2 separate regions of the Homo sapiens genome follow, and region 1 is linked to region 2. Evidence: fine-mapped expression QTL. Tissue or cell type: prefrontal cortex. Region 2 holds a variant in brackets; the other region holds the start of a gene. All regions are shown on one strand. Distances are from middle to middle.

The links. PIP is the estimated chance that this variant, and not a neighbour inherited with it, causes the effect. A credible set is the group of variants that fine-mapping cannot tell apart.
Region 1: it holds the start of IQCJ, and the variant in region 2 is the best candidate, but not a certain one, in a credible set for the expression of IQCJ in prefrontal cortex (ROSMAP, PIP 0.75).

The regions. Positions count from the first base shown.
Region 1 is chr3:159,067,693-159,070,517 of GRCh38, forward strand. It overlaps IQCJ (IQ motif containing J), which reads left to right and starts at 1,627. Exons shown (of 4, transcript NM_001042706.3): 1 at 1,627-1,749. The coding sequence starts at 1,741. IQCJ-SCHIP1 (IQCJ-SCHIP1 readthrough) reads left to right here and starts at 1,627. Exons shown (of 10, transcript NM_001414413.1): 1 at 1,627-1,749. The coding sequence starts at 1,741.
Region 2 is chr3:159,232,439-159,235,263 of GRCh38, forward strand. The region is part of intron 1 of IQCJ-SCHIP1 (IQCJ-SCHIP1 readthrough); the gene reads left to right. All of the region lies in intron 1 of IQCJ (IQ motif containing J), which reads left to right. Among named protein-coding and RNA genes, the nearest start is that of SCHIP1, 39 kb to the right of the region's middle. The variant T/C (reference allele first, on the strand shown) is at 1,469.

The DNA of each region.
Region 1 (2,825 bases), 160 kb before region 2:
GTGAGCATGAATTTTGTAAGTAATTCTGTTGTGTCCATCCCCTGCTGAGTCCCTTGTGGTACTATTTGACAATGGTAAGCCCCTTGAGGGAGTTCTCATCTTAAGGGTCATTGTGTTCTACACAGCATCTGATGTGTAATTCAGTGGATATTTGTTGAACAAATGGATGAAACAAATGGCAGTGGAGAGCTAAGAACAGAATCTAGGCAAACAGGCCTGAGCAGTGGAATGTGAGGGGGACTGGCGGTGCCTCGGTCAATACGTATCAATCGAGCGTGCTTAAAGGTGAGTCTGGCCTTCTGCAGCAGTCTGACCATTGACTCTTTATCAATAAACATAAATACTGTTCTGCCCTTGACCTCAAGAGTTAAAATAATAAATAGCTTAATTGGTCATCATTAATTCCACTTCAAATTTACTATAGGCATGTGTGGCCTTGAACAGAATGACTCCCATGCTCAGCCCAGGCATTTTATCCCCGAACCTCCCAAAGGAGTGTCCTTGGTAAAACAAATAAAATCAGCCTCCCACCTCCTCCCACCCATCAATAGCACGTTTGCTATTGAGTCCAGGCAAATGGCCATTTGCAAGGTTGGATGAGTAGTTAAGCCACACAGGCACAATGTAATATGACAACATTCTTCATGGTAATATTGTCCTCCTCCTCATTACATTTGAATATAGATTGCCACTGTGCAATGCCTTCGACCTCGCTCTCTATTTGTGAGGTTTAGGAGTTCTTCAGACAAGGTGATGTCCACGTGCACTCCTCAGAAATTATTAGCCTATTTGTAAACCTAAACAAAATAACAGCTATTGTCTCTAATAACTTAATTTGCCAAATCTCTTTTCTTCCTATGCTTAATTATGTATAAATTTATAGACTTAAGCCACCTGCCTGCTCAATGCTTGTATATAATCGTACCTCTTAGCTACCACTTAATGTTTCAGGGCTCTTCCTTTATATTCTCTTTGCTTCAAACTGTACATTTAAATATCAGTACTCAGCTCAGCTTCTGAGTATTAAACATTTTTTTTTCTCCACTTCCTTGAAAAGCTGTGAACAAGCCTTTTAGCATTTTATCTGGACCAAACAGTAGTGGTTTTACATGAGAAACGAGAACTCTGCAAGTAAATCTATGTGTTTATATGTCTAAAGTGCATTATAAAAAGAAGCAATAAATCTAGTTTTCTACATAAAAGGAATTAGATTTTCCAGTTTACCTCTGCACTGGGATTAATAAAATGCGCAACAAATAGCTGATGGAATGATCCATTTGAAGTTTGTAAAGGTATCTAGGGAAGCTGGCTGGAGTAGCCTTTTCATTTTTTCAAAAGCAGGATGCCTCTTAATTTTTTGATTCAGTCTTGTTTCTCAATGACTGTTTTAAAATGAGCTGAGAGGCTGTTACCTGCCTGTTTCTGCATGGCTGAGCAAATTCACCCGTAAATCCAAGTTTCTCTTCATTTCCATCACTATACGTCTCCAAATTACAGAGAATTCATTCCTGAGCTGGAGAGGTGCCAGAAGTTTCTCATCTAGCTGTCTGTGGGCTGCCTTTTTCTTTCCCCTCTTTGAGGCTTTCTGATGCCTAGAGTGAGCTCAACTCAAAGGTTTCCAGCCTCACACTCGCCTCACATTCCCCCACAGTCACATTGCGCTCTGTGATTCTGAGGAATACAGTGTGCCAGCATCCGATCCAGTCTCCTTTCACCTGCAGGTGTTCCAGAAACTTCAAAATGCGTCTGGTAATGTATTTGCTTTTCTAAACGTGCCACTTTGATGTGCATTATATGCAGCTGCTTATTATTTTTTAAAAATCTGTCTTCTGAATTAACATGTATGCAAAAAATGTCAAAAAGAGCTTATAGAACAGTGTGGGCTTAATTATTGGTCTAGGTGCGTGTGCATGTGTCCTTGTTAATGTAGGCATGTGTGCATAAATATGTATTATTTATGTATACATGTGTCTGTGCGGACAGATTTCACTAAAGGAATCTCATTGAAAGCAACACTTCCTATGAACATCCAGATTTTCTAGTCAGATCTGTAAATATCTTACACAACAACAGCAAGTAGAGGAAAAATACATTTTTCACACCCATGCAAATGGTATGTTTTAAACACTTATTTAAAAAGCCCTCCTTTCTTGTGTGTGTGTGTGTGTGTGTGTGTGTGTGTGTGTGTGTGTGTGCGTGTGTATGGGGAGGAGGTGTTGATTTTTGAAAATTGGGAGAGAAGAGTTATATTGCTGCTGCACGAGAATTTCTACCCCATGTTACCTGCCTTCTTAAAACTCAGTAAGCACTGAGGGGAAGAGATGTGGTTCTGCTTTGGAGAACCTCAGGGGGACGTTGATCCGCAGTGTTCAGCAGGAATTTTAGGTATTCTAAATACTAGTGCTTGAATAATAAGTAGATGGGGTAGATTTGCTATAGCCAAATCCTTCTATGTTTTCTGGCTTGTAGGAATCACATTCACACTGTACATTTAGGATCTGCATGTGTTTATTGAACTCTAGTAAAGCAGCGTGAGAGTGCAGGCTCATAAATCACATTATTTATTTGCTAGTGTTGGGTGCTAGATTCTAAGATTAAGAGATTACTTAGCAATTAATAATATATTCAGCATCCCTTGTCTCATTGGGTGAGATTTACATCCTTGGGACTTGCTCTTCTAGTTATAAAGATGAATTATTTAAGGTTCATACTTAATTGCTATTTCAAATTCTTAAGCTAGAAAGATACTTGCAACACTATATTTAAAAGACTTATTTTGAAAAATGTGTATGTATATTTCTAACTGGTGGTGAGCTAATTATGAC
Region 2 (2,825 bases):
TTGAGAGACTTTCTTTTTTTTTTTTTTTTTTTTTTTGAGATGGAGTCTCCCTGTGTCACCCAGGCTGGAGTGCAGTGGTGTGATCTCAGCTCATTGAGTGAGTTTCTTAATCCTGAGTTCTAATTTGATTGCACTGTGGTCTGAGAGACAGTTTGTTATGACTTCTGTTCTTTTGCATTTGCTGAGGAGGGTTTTACTTCCAATTATGTGGTCAATTTTAGAGTAAGTGCTATGTGGTGCTGAGAAGAATGTATATTCTGTTGATTTGGGGTGGAGAGTTCTGTAGATGTCTGTTAGTTCCACTTGGTCCAGAGCTGAGTTCCAGTCCTGAATATCCTTGTTAATTTTCTGTCTTGTTGATCTAATATTGACAGTGGGGTGTTAAAGTCTCCCACTATTGTTGTGTGGGAAAGAATCATTCCTAAAGAGGACTTTAAATGAAAACTTTCAGGTAAAATAGGTGGGGGTTGGCTGAGAGCTGTGTGACAGATCTTCTGGGACAGATAGGACTTAACATCCAGGTATAGAGATTTGTTCCAATATATAATGCTCTCCTAGAGACTGCTCTCCAGATAATTGAGGTAATGCTGCGCTATTTAATGATAATATAGACACTGCAATATATTACTAACCTTTTCTTTCTTTTTTAAAAGACTCTCTTATCGATTTTTTTTGAACCCACATCTGGACTGAGTCATCCCAAGTTTTTGAGTTCATGATCTCATTCTGGGTTTTGATGACACGTTTATGTTCCAAGAGAATTAAGTCGGTTGGGGATGGAAAGAGAGGGCATGTCACACAGAACTTGGTATGAAGTCCTGCCAGGCCCAGGGGCTTAGGCTCTATCTGCTAGGTGAGGGGGGTCAAGAAAGGTTCCAAGGAGTTGACTGTCCTGATGAGTTTGGCATTTCAGGTTGCTCCTTCTGGCAGGCAATAAGTCTTCAAATAAGGAAAGTAGAATAGATGGTGTTCCAGAGGCCATTTGGCAAAACTGGGTAACTAATGGGAAATGGGTTGAGAGTGAGCCAGGGGAGGATACTTAGGTTAACATCCATGTTTTGAAGAGTCTGAGATACATAATAATAAAAATCTGTGTGATAGTTAAAATAACTAATGTCATCGAGCACCTGCTATTTGCCTGGTGCAAGACTGAATTTTTAATCATCAAGCTTTGAAATTTGGTACAATTAGTGTCCCCATTTTACAGATGATAAAACTGAGGCTCAAAGGAGTCACACAGCCCAAGATTACACAGGAATGGAGCAGAGCTGGACACCACAGGAATGACAAGACAAGTAAGACATAATTGCTATCCTTGGTGTGACACTTAAGGAATCTCTCTGTGGATGACCAGCACTTTAGAGTACACAAAACACCTTTAAATATGTTATTTTAGTTAATCCCCACATAGTATTGTATAGGAGGCATTGCCATCATCATCTTACACATGATGAAACTGAGATCTAAA[T/C]GGAAGGAGTTGCTTTCTAAGATCAGACAGTAATTAGATGACGCATCTAATTTAAATGATAAATCCGAGCAGTTTGCAGAACATTACAACTTCTTTACAAATGCCATGAGTGAGATACTGCTGCTACTCACACTGGTGTAAGTCCCAAGTCATTCATGGGAAAAGAGTGCAGATGATACAGTTTAGATTCTGGGATCAGACTGCTTATTATATTGGCACCTCATTTCTGCTATAAGACCTTGGACAAGTTACTTATTCTCCTAGGTATGTTTTCTTATCCAAGAAATGGGAATAATAATGGCATATTTTGCTATTTTTATAAGGCTTCTGTGATAATTTTTAAGAGATAATTCATGCAACATGCCTGGAGCCTAGTAAAATTCAATTAATGTTAGTAGTAATAAAAATAGTTCAAAGAAATGACATAGAATTAGTTGCAGAAGGAAATACTAAAATATATAAAATCACATTTCAAATGAATTTTGAAGAATTTCAGAAGGTATAAGAGAAGCAATCCTGTGGCTAGGGAGTTAGGAATGTTTTTAATCCCGAAGATTGTTTTTGTTTAAGTTAGCAGTAGTGTTTATGAGCAGAAGAGTTAAATTATTGGAGATGGGCCCGGCACGGTGATTCATGCCTGTAATCCCAGCACTTTGGGAGGCCAAGGCAAAAACATTGCTTGAGACCAGGAGATAGAGACCAGCCTGTATAACCCTGTCTCTACAATAATAAAAATAATGTTTTAAATTGTTGAATATGTACTTAAAGAAAAGCAATTAGGCAGCACAATGAAATAGTCCCAGAGAGAAGAATCAAGGCCCTGAACAAGGGTGGTAGTGGAGGGGATAGAAAGGGGGAGATAGATCGGTATGAAGGGCTGCAGGGCATTTTAGGAGCTCTTACCAGCATGCATTTGGATTGCTTCTTCACAACATCACTTAGTAAATACATAAGAAATGCAAACTCACTTTCTAACCCTGCTAAGCAAAAAAATCTAATCTGGATGGTGTTTGCTACACTACAACAAAATGCATTCCAGAATCAGGTATAAACAATTTGGGAGTTACATGTTGTTCTGATTGCCTGCACTTTTTTTTTGTGCTTTGGTGCAAGAAACCCAGAGTTGGTGTATGGATTCACGTATCCACATTTGCTATTCTGTCTGCTTTCTGAGAGGTGTTTATTTGTTGGCTTCTGTGCTTATTTGTACTTGTGTTCTCATCTTGAAGCATGGTCTCTAGGATAATTTTCTCAGAAGGCAGAAATACATGAAATGTAAAAATATCTACACTCTTGTGCCTATACCTATATTTTGATCTCAGTTGAATTTTTATAGTTGTCCTGCTGTTAAGCTGAA